3 separate regions of the Homo sapiens genome follow, and all the other regions are linked to region 2. The links come from fine-mapping of genetic effects on gene expression. A gene starts in region 2. Each other region holds a variant in brackets. All regions are shown on one strand. Distances are between the middles of the regions. Region 1 overlaps MCTP1 (multiple C2 and transmembrane domain containing 1). Region 2 holds the start of MCTP1 (multiple C2 and transmembrane domain containing 1). Region 3 overlaps SLF1 (SMC5/6 complex localization factor 1).

The links. PIP is the estimated chance that this variant, and not a neighbour inherited with it, causes the effect.
Region 1: its variant is the best candidate, but not a certain one, in a credible set for the expression of MCTP1 in neutrophils (CEDAR, PIP 0.58).
Region 3: its variant is the best candidate, but not a certain one, in a credible set for the expression of MCTP1 in whole blood (INTERVAL, PIP 0.52).

The regions. Positions count from the first base shown.
Region 1 is chr5:94,744,643-94,748,887 of GRCh38, forward strand. The region is part of intron 19 of MCTP1 (multiple C2 and transmembrane domain containing 1); the gene reads right to left. Among named protein-coding and RNA genes, the nearest start is that of SLF1, 130 kb to the left of the region's middle. The variant C/T (reference allele first, on the strand shown) is at 1,702.
Region 2 is chr5:95,283,431-95,287,675 of GRCh38, forward strand. MCTP1 (multiple C2 and transmembrane domain containing 1) reads right to left here and starts at 1,664. Exons shown (of 23, transcript NM_024717.7): 1 at 426-1,664. The coding sequence starts at 1,145. RefSeq lists silencers at 753-872, 953-1,012.
Region 3 is chr5:94,687,084-94,691,328 of GRCh38, forward strand. SLF1 (SMC5/6 complex localization factor 1) reads left to right here. Exons shown (of 21, transcript NM_032290.4): 17 at 1,423-1,586; 18 at 2,390-2,523. Among named protein-coding and RNA genes, the nearest start is that of SLF1, 71 kb to the left of the region's middle. The variant A/ACCT (reference allele first, on the strand shown) is at 1,953.

The DNA.
Region 1 (4,245 bases), 540 kb before region 2:
ACAGGCGTGTGCCACCACACTGGGCTAATTTTTGTATTTTGTATTTTTAGTAGAGATGGGGCTTCTCCATGTTGGTCAGGCTGATCTCGAACTCCCAACCTCAGGTGATCCGCCCGTCTCGGCCTCCAACGTGCTGGGATTACAGGTGTGAGCCACCGCGCCCAGCCACCAATAGGTAGTTCTTGACTGGATTACATCCCGAGATTTGATACCAAGACTAAAACTGTGTTCAGCTCATTTCCCAAAATACAGTAAGGGGCTTTAACATTGGATTCAAATCCTGCCCTGCCTGTGCTGTGCAAACTTGGACAAGTCCAAGGGCACAGCCTTAACACAGCATTTCTTGTCAGATAACCATTGCTTTTAAGATGGTTGAAACAACAAGAGAAGGAAGACTCCAGAGTAGTCCTATGACATGCTCCCACCCACAGAGAGTAAGAATGTTTCCCAGCCACTTCTCATGACCATAGTTTTCTTACTGGATACGCCTGAGTGCAGCAAGGTCTAAGGGGAAGTTTAGGGCTTCAGGTTTGAGGACTTGCTTAATAATGCCTTTCTGTCTATAACCAGTATGCCCACAAGTGAACAAACCTTTTCCCAAAATGGGTCAATTATAATGTTCTGGGTGGAGATTCCATAGCTGCTCCACAGCTCGGAGAGTGTGCTCTTTGGTGCAAGATGTGAGGAGGGATAAAGGAGCTGCACTGGCTTTCCTGTTCTCTTACAGAGTGTCCACTTGTTTCCATTTCTTCTGGGAGAATGGGGAGGAGGCATGTGTAATACATATATTTGACTTCTTTTAGCCTCATTTTCACTTTGTCTCTTTTTGTCTCTTATTCCCATTTTGCAGATGAGCTGGTAGGGGTAGAGGGCAGTTAGGCGATATGAAAGAAAGGTGGAGAGGAAAGAGTCATTTTACTGTTCTCCATTTGAGTATCTTCAAAATCATCAGGTATTCTTGCAGAGAAAAATTAAGGGAGGCATCATTATATTTATTTCTAGTGCCTAACACTGAGCCTGACACATAGGTGCTTAATAGAAACTTGAAGAAAAATGTGTTGAAGAAATAAGTACTCATTGAAGAAAAACATATTTACAGAAGAGAAGCAGCACAAAGTGCTCGGCTGCAAGCAACAGAATATTCTAGTAGTAGATTAGGTAGTAGAGTTAATTTTCCTCATGCAATAGGAAGTTCAGAAGTCAGGTTATTGATATTGTACCAGATGTTCAAAGTGATCATTTGGGCCCTAAGAACTTTCTGTCTTTCCATTTCTTCATCCTTATGTTTATTGCCTCATGGTGTTAATATGGCTGCCCCAGCTGTAAGCATTGCATTCACATTCAAAGGTAGATGAGAGGGGGAAGGATGGAGTCAGCAATATCTGTCCTATGTTATCAAGAAAGTAAAAAACTTTCCCAGAAACCCCCGGAACACATCCTTTTCCAGCTCTTTGGCCAGAACTATATTAAAGAGTCATTCATAGATACAATGAAACCTTAGAAAACTGAGGATTTAGGCAGAATCTTTGTCATTATGTACAAAGTCCGTCTTCCATTAGCAAGGGAAAATGGGGAAATAAACACTGGGTAGACAATATCCGCCACACTTGACTGGAGCCCTTTCTGCCTCCTACTCCTTTCTGAATACTCAAATGACTCACAGCCCTCTATTAATTCTTTTATGTCATTTATTTCCCCTCC[C/T]AGATTGAAGGCGTTACTCATGTTTGACTCATTTTCTCCTATCTTTTACACGGTAAACCCCTAATAAGTGCTAATATTATGAATGTTTTGAGATATATGTAAAATGATGCTCTTTAAGTAGTTACAGAAAGAATAAAAACCATGACTTCATTTGTATATTTGTGCATTAGCTACTACTCCATTTTAAATACAGTAGGTAAAGTAGGCTTAAGTGAAATTTTACAAAGGGGAATAAGAACAAATATAAACAACAAATATAAGACATTTTTATAATGTAATAGTGCAGACAAAACTGAAATTCATCTCTTTAAAATGAACTTAATTTCCTGTTTCTTTGTCTTCTCATGCATTCCATGTCATAAAGATAGGTAAATTATTCTAGAAATACTAATATTTTTCAGGTTCAGAAAACTTCAGTGGATCTCAATGCACATAAGAAACTGTCTACATTCCTTGCTCCAGTGCTCAAAACTCCACAACCTGGTCCCAACCAACCATTCTTACCCTGTCACTCACAACTCTTGCGTCAGTATATTTTGCTGTGGCTAAATTCTTCTACAAACTGCCCTCTCAAGGCCTCTTGGGAATTCCACTTCCCCTTGACCTTGAATACCTTTAAGTTCCTCTTTTGGCTTGTTTGAATCTGACTTAGCCTTCAAAGTCTAGCTCAAGTATCAGGTTGATAATTAGATAATGTAGGTTTCCAGCTTTTTTTTTAGGCTGGAGATACAGTTTGCCTTTATCCATATCTTCTGCCTGTACTGGATTTTGTTATTTCAGTTGTCCAGGAGTTCTGTGTGTGAACTGCCATCTTTTCTGTTCCATGTAATATCGTAGCATAGCACGACAGCAGCAAGTATTTTTTCTGTAATGGAAAACTGATTGCTACAATTCTGACAATGGTCATGCTCACCATTTTAACAGTTATATAATTATATGTTACCTATCATTTCCTATGTAGAAACTGTATTAAGAACCATCATTTAATCCTCATAATCTTATGAGGCAAGTATTATTTTTGTTCCCATTTTGCAGATGAGGAGACAGAGGAGCTATCTCTTGGATAGCTTCCAATTCAGAAGTAATTTTTTTTTCTGTAAAGGGCTAAATAGTAAATATTTTAGGTGTTCCAGGCCACATAATCTGTGTTGCCGCTATTCACCCCTTCATTGAAAGCATGAAAGCAGCCGTAGATAGTAAGAAAACAAATGGGTGTAGTTGTATGCCAATAAAACTTTATTTACAGTTGGCTGAATTTGGCCTGTGGACTGTAGTTTACTGACTTCTGTTCTAGCCCAAATAATCCTTTTCATATATAAAGCTAAGAGAGGTAAAGTCCAGATTGCAACAGAGGCGGATCTAGAATCGAGGTCTTCTGATTGGTGGGTTAGTGGTCTTTAACTATTATACTAACTGGATGGGGGTAATTATTCTGTAATAAATTGAGCTTCTGAAATTATAAGGAGGCCAGGCATGGTGGCTCACGCCTGTAAACCCAGCACCTTGGGAGGCCAAGACAGGTGGATCATCTGAGGTCAGGAGTTTGAGACCAGTCTGGCCAATGTGGTGAAATCCCGTCTCTACTAAAAGTATAAAAATTGCTCGGCGTAGTGGCGCGCGCCTGTAATCCCAGGTACTTGGGAGGCTGAGGCAAAATAATTGCTTGAACCCAGGAGTCAGAGGTTGCAGCGAGCTGAGATTGTGCCATTGCACTCCAGACTGGGTGACAAGAGTGCAACTCTGTCTCAAGAAAGAAACCATAAGGAAGTTTTGATACTATTGACAAATTATACTGTTTGACCCAGATGATTAGGTTTCTGTAATTTGATGTGGGTTTTATTCCATCTTCTGTGTCTTCCAAAGGTATGTGGACTTTTAAACTCAGTTTCTTCATCTTTTATAGGAAAGCATTTTCCAGACTAGATAAACACATGCCAGTTGCATGTACAGTTAGGACTCAGAGCTTGCTAAAGAGCACAGGGTGACGACTGTGGAACTACTGAAACATTGTCGAGACAGCAGTCCGTTAAGGCTTCTCAGAGTAGTTCTGAGTACATGGCTCCCTGCCAACTTTCTAACCTGGCCCCCTAGTTTACCAGGAAACATTTTGACATGGTTAAATAGGTACATACATCCTTTGTGGCTACAGGACAAAACCCATGATTGCCTGATCTCTTTAGTCCCATGCTCTGAAAAATTTAGATTCAAATCTTTGACTGGAAATAAAATTTCTGTGGGGCAAGTTTTTATTCTCTGATCTTTGTTCTTTCTATTAATAGACTTGGAATGTAATGGAAAATATAGTTAACATTGCCTTGCACATTTACTTTTTGAGCATAGTTATCAGCACTCTAAGTTTCTCGATTGTCTCAGGACACTGATGATACTAATAGATTCCAAAAAGACTTTCTTGAGCCAGAAGCACTGTAGCACTACATTTCCAGCTCTCTGTTGAGTCTTCAAACTAAGTAGAAAAAGAGAAGCAAATTGAACCTCATATATTTTACTATCCAAGAGGATATTACCTTGACTGGACACGGTGGA
Region 2 (4,245 bases):
TATTTCTTCCCGCCAGCCATTTGCTTCCAATGGTACCTCTCCACACCACCACACGTGATCGTAATTGTTTTTAAGTTATTGGGTTAGTTTTTTCTTTTGCCAAGATGAGATTTGGCTGGACATCTCCTTTCAGGAGAACTCTAAAAAGTACCCACTTTAGGTCTAACTTTTCATTGACTACTCAGAAAGCTTCTGGTGACAGGTATCATTTCTACCAAAAGTAAAGTCCGGGTGCAAGTCAGAACTCTTTCATCTTTGCTAAACCAGAGCGAGATGTTTTCTTTCGACTGTTTCATCTACTTAGAATTAATAGCATTTCTCCTCCCGCCTCCCGGCCCCCGCCCCCCGCTCCCCGGGTGGTGAACGCCTGAAGAGGGAGGCGTGGTCCCGCGCACCTTGTCTCCGGCCGCGCCACCGGCACTCACCTGGCTGCTGCCGTGCTCCTCGCCCGTCTCCGGGGCCCGAGACTCCGCGGGACTCCGCGCCGGCTCTGCGGGAGGAGGCGGCGGCTCCAGCAGCTGCTCCAGGCAGGCGGTGCCCGGCAGAGAGGAGCTCTTCTGGTGGCACAAGTGCGCCCCGGGGCCCTGACGCCGTGCACCCTCATCTCGGGCGCGGTCCCCCCTCGGGGGAGGCTGGGGCGAGGAGGACAGGGAGGATGAGGCGGAGGAAGAGGAAGGAGCTGAGTCGGGGGAGCGTCCGCCAGGAGGCGTCCCTCCCGCTGCTCCCGAGGCCGCCGCGGGCCCCTTTACGGCGGGGAGCAAATGCTCGCGGATCCGGCGGCGTAGCGTGGACCCCTGCTCGGCTCTGCCGGCGCCGCCGGGCTCCAGGGGCTCCGGCGACGAGCAGCACAGGTTGGGCTGCGAGGAGGAGAAGACTCGGTCCAGCACTTGCTTCCGCTTCTTGAAGCCGCTCCACCTGCTGCCTGCACCACTCCCCCTGGCCGGTGCATTCCCTGTGCCCACCGGGGGTGGCGGGGAGGGCGACGGGGTGTCCGCAGTGCGGCGCTCTGGACCCCCAGCGCGCCCGCCCCCGCCGCCCTTGCTCCTGCCCACCCCCAGCTGCAGGTTCTTCCAGAGCCGGGCCTGGAAGGAGGAGGACGCCGCCGGCGGCTCTGGCTCGCCCGCCGCGGCAGCCCGGGGCTCCATCCTCCACCCCCTGCTCCTCCTCTCCCCTCCTCCTCCTCCTCCTCCTCCTGCTTCTCCTCCCTCTTCGGCTGCACCTCCTCCCGGGTCCCCGCGGCGCTGGCGGTGGCGGCGGCGGCGGCGGCGGGCGCAGCAGCAGAAACCGGGAGTGCCCAGCGACTTCAGGCCAGCTCGGGGGAAAGAAGCGGCCGCCGCCGCCGAGGCTCTCTGGCCTCGGGACTCCGGCGCTGCCTCTTCCTCCCGCACCTGCTGGGGTGGGCTGGAGCCGTAACCGAATCCCGGCCGCGGCGCCTGCAAAGTTTTTCCCTCGAAGCTCCGCGGCTCCAGTCCACTGGCGTCCCCCAGGCCGCGCCCTGGCTCCCTCTTCTCTCTGACCGAGCTCGGGAAGCTGCACGCACCGGGGCGTGCGCGTCCAGCTGCGCCAGGGACCGCACCCGGCGCCCTCTGGGCAGCACCTGTCAGCGGCGGGGGCGGCTGCCTCCAAATTGGGCGCGCACGCGGCTCACACAACAAGGCGCGTCTGGCTGGAGACTCCGGGGACCAGCAGTCCCCCTGGGGCGCCCCGGGACCATCCTCCAGCTCCTAGGTGGGAGGGCCGGTAGGAGCCGGGTGGAGCTAGGTAGGGCCCGAAGCCAGCTTGCTCCCTAGGATCCGGCCACAGTTGCCCAGGCAGCTCGCTGTGCGCTGGCCGCTGGCCGCGCTGGCGATCGTCTGGGTCGGATGAAGCGAGCTGGAGTGGAAACTATGTGCCCTCGATGGGTCTCGTGGGGGCGCCGATCGTCCACACTGAGCGATGAACCCGACGGAGTTCTAAAGCTGAAGACGTCTGCCCCCGCCCCGTTGCGCTCCCTGGGTCCAAGACGAGAGTTTAATTTCTTCTGTCTTGACTTCATCCCCATCCACCCCTCCCTTTTCTTTATTTGCCTCTGCACTGGTCTCTTATGATCAGGTTCTAGCATTTCCGGAGTCTGACGATAAAGCCAGCCCTTAAGTTGCAGGGAGTTTACGGTGGACGAAGATGGGTGATGCGCACTGCCTTTGATCCGATTCGGCACGCACAGAATCTTGTTCTTTTCATTCAAGCGCATTTTTTCTTTGGTTACTTCATTTGCTTGTTGCAAGGCAAACGGAAAAGGCTTTTTAGCTCATTCAGACTTTGCTTCTCCCAAAGCTGCTCAGCCAGGGTCTTCTGATTCTGCTAGGAGAGACTTCTGAAAGGCCAGCAACACAATGCCTCTTTCGTCCTCCTAAATGGGGAAAACGGGAGAGTTCCCTAAGCTGCGGTAGCACACTGATCAGTCTTGTCTAGCTAGCAGTATGCTTTGGAGGTGTTACCAACCTAAGTTTTTTGTTTTGTTTTGTTTTTGTTACCTTTATAACAAATATTTATTAAGCACCTACTATATACCAGGCACTGTGATAGGCTCTGGGGATGCAGCTGTGAACAGGGCATCAGGGTCCCACCCACATGGAGCTTATTGTGAGGGTGAGGGTTGGGAGGTGATGCGAGACAATAAACAGAATTTCTAATATGCAAAAGTCCCATGGAAACAGTTAAGCAGGGTACCACATAACAGAGTGGCTACAGAGGAAGAGCTTCCAGACAAAATGCAGGACACCCAATTAAACTGACTTTCAGAGAAACAATGAATAATATTAGTATATGTATGTCCCAAATATTGCATGGGACATACTTATACTAAAATACTATTATTTATCTGAAATTTAAATTTAACTGGGTGTCATGTTTTTGTTTGCTAAATCTGGCAGCCCCATATGGAGAGGTTTTTGGTTTTTTACATTATGTGTACAGGGAGAGTCTCTCTGAGAAGATAAAATTTTGAGTTAAGACTTAATGAGGACAGAGAACCAGCTATTGACGGATCTGACTGTAGAATTTCAGGTAGAAGGAACAGCAGATACAGAGGTCCTGAGGCAGGAAGCAGCTTGACTGGGCATATTCAAGGACAGAACGATACCACTCCAAATAGAGTAGAGCAAGGTGGGTGGGGTTGGTAAGAGATGTAGTGAAACAAAAGGTCAGCTAAGGGAGTGGGTCCTATAGCCAGAGTGAGAGTCCATGTTTCCTCTAAATGAAATTGGGAGACATTAGAGGTCTTTTTTAATCGTGAGGGTAATGTGATGTGATTTACTAATACTAATGCCAGGTATTAATAAATAGCCTCACAGGGCTATTTTGAAGATTAAGTGGAAAAAGGACTTAGCTCAGTGCCTGTATATAGTTGATATTATTGTTATTTGGTAGACCCAGTATTTCCCAAGTATATGAATACTATGCTTTGGAAAAAGAGCAACGTGAATGGAGAAACACTGGGCTGCATTTAAATAATATTATTGAAATGACAAGATTATAGAGATGGATAGTGGTTGCCAGGGGTTAGCGGTGGGGCAAATGTAAAGGATCAGAATAAAGAAGTTTATTTGTTATGATGAGACAAATTTAGATTGTGGTGGTGGTTACATGAATGTGTGTTATACACAGGATAGGACTGCATAGAACTACATACATATATGAATGCACATAAAAACGTGACATCTGAATAAGATAAGTTGTACCAATGGCAATTTCCTGGGTCTTAATATTGAACTATAGTTATGTATGATAATATCATTGGGGGAAATTGGGTGAAGGTCACACAGGAGCTCTATGTAGTATGTTTGCAACTTCCTGTGAGTCCATAATTATTTTAAAATTTAAAGTATAAATAAAAGCAAACAATAATAAAGCATGTTTTTTTGAAAAAATTGTGTGCTGCTGAAAGTTTTCCTTTGGAACCTTAATAATTAGAGAATGAAACAGTCTTAGAGCTACGATGGCCTACCCTTTCTTTGTAGCTCTGTTCTGGCCAACCCCACCTAATTCCTGAGGAAGCCTCTGAGAAGCAAATGAGGGAAAAGTCAGGACTGGTGAGGCAGAGTCCACATTAGGGCAAGCTCACAACTGCAAAGGTAAACACAGAGGCTGTGAAGCACTCTCCACACAGAATAAGAAAAGCCAACCACATTTGCCTTTATGGAGGTACCTCCCCACCGGGTGAAAGCAGAAGGGTTGGCATTTTTCACTGGCTTTTCCTTCCTCTTC
Region 3 (4,245 bases), 600 kb before region 2:
ATTCTTAGTTATTTCAAGTAAGTAGGCAGAATATATTAATTCATAAATATTTCAATTCTGTATAAAAGCTAGTATATTTCTGTCTCTAATTAGAGTAATGAAAGCCAGCGGCCGTGCTGAGTGCCTGTAGGTGAGTGCCTGCAGGTGAGTGCCTGTAGTTCCAGCTACTCAGGAGACTGAGGCGGGAGGATTGCTTAATCCCCAGAATTTGAAGCTGTAGTGCATTATGGTTGCACTTGTGCATAGCCACTGCATTCCATCCTGGACAACATAGTGAGACCCCTTCTCCAGGGGCAGTGGGGGGAAGGTAATCACCAAATAGAAATTTTAAGGCCGAGCATGATGGCCCCTGCCTATAATTCTAACACTTTTGGAAGCTGAGGCAGGAGGATCCCTTGAGCCCAGGAGTTCGAGACCAGCCTGGGCAACATAGCAATACTCTGTCTCTAAAAAAAAGTTAAATTAGCTGGGCATGGTGGCACATGCCTGTGGTCCCAGCTACTCGGGAGGCTGAGGTGGGAGGATCCTTAATCCCAGGAGGTCGAGGCAGCAGTGACCTGTGATAACCACTGTACTGTAGCCTAGGTGGCACACTAAGACCCTGTCTCAACAACAACAACAACAACAACAACAACAAAGAAAGAAAAGAAAGGAAAAAGAAATTTTAATTACTTTTGAGCGTAGCCAAGGGTTGATCATAGAAAACTAAAAAATCCTTGTTTCCTAATAAAATTCCTACATAGGTTATTATTTTGGAAAGAACTAGATCCAACAAAATTCTAAATGGTATTTAAAAAGCAAAATATTATGCATATAAGCTACATTTGATTTAAAGTTTTCCAGTTTTATTTTGGCTATCTTTAGATATTAATATTTAATAATAATTATTTATTATTATTAATAAGGCAATATTAATTTAGATATGTAGATATTAATATCTATCTTTAGATATTAATATCTTTAGATATTAGTCAAATTCTGTTTTGCAACAATCCTTTAAGGATGTTTTTATTCCTTATTTTGTTTTCTGTTGAAGAAAGACTTGTTTTCTGTTCAAGGCATTATCAGAATGGAAATTACAAAATACCAGTTGTATGTAAATCATACATATAAAATGTGCAAATGAATCATACCTGTTGGGCATAAGACTAATCAAAAGAGCTTTCCTAAATGAGGATCAAAATTGAATTAGAAAAAAATAATTATTTTTAAGAAGGTGTTTTTCTGGTTGTTCACATGGTATTGACTTTGACACAAAACTAGTTTTCTTAATATTTTATTATGTTCAACCAAGATAGAGTGGCAACCATAGTGATGCAACCAAGAAAATATAACCAAATGTAATAGTGAAATGAATCAAATAATTTCTCTTTACTGCTGTTTTTGTAGTTGAGAAAATAATGCAATATTATTTTTCAACAGGTATATTCCTATTTACCAGCCTTGGGGAAAACTGGTGTGCTTGGGTCTGGAAAGATTCAGGTGTCAAAGAAAATAGGACAGCGGCCTTGTTTTGACTCTCAGAGAACCTTACTAATGCTGAATGGTACTAAACAAAAACAAGTCGAAGGGCTGCCAGAGTTACTGTAAGTGATGCTGATATCCCAGCTGTGCTTTGTTTTGGAGTACAGCTCTTTCTCTGATGCATTTCTTGAACTTAATGGTTATCTGTGATACTGTCTGAATTATACTGATTAGATCAAAACTCAATTTTAGATCTATTTGATCAACATTTTCTGTTTCTGTAATTCAAGGTACATGCTTTCTAAGTGCTTCCCAAAAGAAATAAAACTGCTCATCAAATTATTGATGAATTATTGATGAAATACAGTTCCACACAATTTTTGCCCTATGATTTGAATGACTACTTTGCCATAATATAGATGGGATTTCAGAATGCATGGTCATATGAGATATCCTGTATCATTATAGTAGTTTCCCCAAAATGAGAA[A/ACCT]CCTCTAAAAGTATAAGGTGTATAAAAGTGTATGTTGTATAAAACTCAGAAAGCCTGAAAGCTTCTGTGAGAGGAAGAAGAGAATAGAATCAGAATATGAAAGTAAGAATGGGGAGCAGAGGCCTGCTTGATCTTAGCTTTCTGCTTTATTCTCTCTGCCAAATATGGTTTAACTGGTCTTTTTCTCTTTATTTGACATTCTGTATTTATAAATTTAGTGAGCAGTTGGGGGAGTAGGACTAATAAAAGAAAATTAGTGCACTGAAGTTTGTTTCTACACAGTTGAAATAAATTTTAAAATTAGAAAGCAGTAAAGATTGAATGAGTAAGGGAGTTTAAATTAAAAGGGGGCTAGACTTTTAAAAAATACCATCTAATGTATGCTGGCACGCCTTGCTGAAAAACAAGCTTTCATTATTTCTTACTTTTCCTTTCAGAGACCTGAACCTTGCTAAATGTTCCTCATCATTAAAAAAATTGAAAAAGAAGTCAGAAGGAGAATTGTCATGTTCCAAGGAGAATTGCCCCTCTGTAGTTAAAAAGATGAATTTTCACAAGACTAATCTAAAAGGTATTCCAAGTATTTAAATTAATTTATGCTAAGAACTTTTCATGGTTATAGTCAGTACTTGCAGGTTTCACACATTTGCCCTGATGAATACTTGAACTTAAATATTGGACTAGGTCCAGGAAGTACCTTCTTGGATAACGTATTATTTTCTTGAACTGTCATTTATGCAAAGAAAGTGATTGTTTAATAACCAGTATAATAGAGTATTCTTTCCTTTTTTTCCTCTCCCTGCCATTACAGATATGAAACACAGTGTAGCATTCATTGAGCTCATTCCAGACTTGCCCGCCTTACTTTTCTATTCCATCTCAACCTGTGCTGCTTAGGATCAGTGTCTTCTGATTTGAAAGTATAATTCAGTCTTCATCTCTTTCAGTCCTAGACATTTTGTGAACAAAGAATGAAGAGTAGGCTATGTTACATAGCTGTGTTAAGCATATGGGCTCTTTTCTTCCAGGCATTGAGCCCAGACTATGAAATGTGTTTGGCTTTTGGTTCTAACTATACTGGAACCTAAGTACCTAAAGGATGAAATAACAAGAATAGCATAATAATTCACTTTGGCACCTCTTTTACTTAGCCACCTCATAACTTGTAAATGGATCTTCCAGAAGTCTATACCTGGCCAAAGTAAATTGCTGAGTCTTTTTTGTTGTTGTTGTTTATGAGTTATATCTTGTTTTTAATACAAATATTAACATTATGACACCCATGGAAATAGTGACAGTGAAGCACTTATATTTCAATGTGATATAAGTTCATAATTGCATATTACAGATTCAAAATAACTGTCCATTTGACTTGGAATATGAAAATTATATTAGATGAGAACTCAGATATTAATTTCACAAATCAGCGTTCTTTTTCTTTGTTTTATTGTTTCAGAAAGTAAAATGAATATGAATGATTTTAGGCAGAACAGCAGAAGGAACTGGGAGAGAGGAAGAGAATTGAGATATAGTAGAGAAAAACTTCAAAAGCTTTTTATGCATGTAAAAAAATGTTTTTGTAGAAGTTAGAGATAATCTGTAAAACTGAACACTGTAAAAATGTGCTACTTAGTATTTTATAGTAAGAACAAATTAGATTCAGTATTTCATTTTGTTTCCTAAGCAGTCATTTATAGTAATTTTTTTAAAATTCCCCTTAAATAATCACTTATATCTTATTAATCTTGGTTGTAACAGTGATGGATATAGACAATTTTAGCCAGAAGGCATTAATTGCGTCTCTCCTAGAAAAAACCTTGTCATTTCTATTTGTTACTCTTGTTCAGCTTTAAATGGTACTAGGGATTTTTTTTTTTTTTACATCCGTGTGTGTGTCTGTGTGTGTGTGTGTGTGTGGTGTGTTTATATTAAGATTCCTCCATTTCTCCCTCTCTCTGCTGTTGTAGCCAAGCCAGACAGCCTATTGAGAAGCAGCAAACCATCTGTTAATGGATTTGAAGTTCTGAATTATACTTGAGTGTGTAGAGGCACTCATGCTTAGCCAGAAACATTCATTTGAATTAAGCTATAAATGCTGTATAAAAAAGAGCCATACATTTAATGTAGGTTCATGAATAAATTTAAGAGAGGGCAATTGCACTCTAAACTTTTATTGCTGCAAAACCCAGTATTTTTGGTGTTCTCTGATCATTTGGGGGTTTTATAGCAGGATTGAAGCTTTAAACCTTGAACTAGGGGAGACAATGCCTGTGTTAAACCTTTTGCAGTAGAA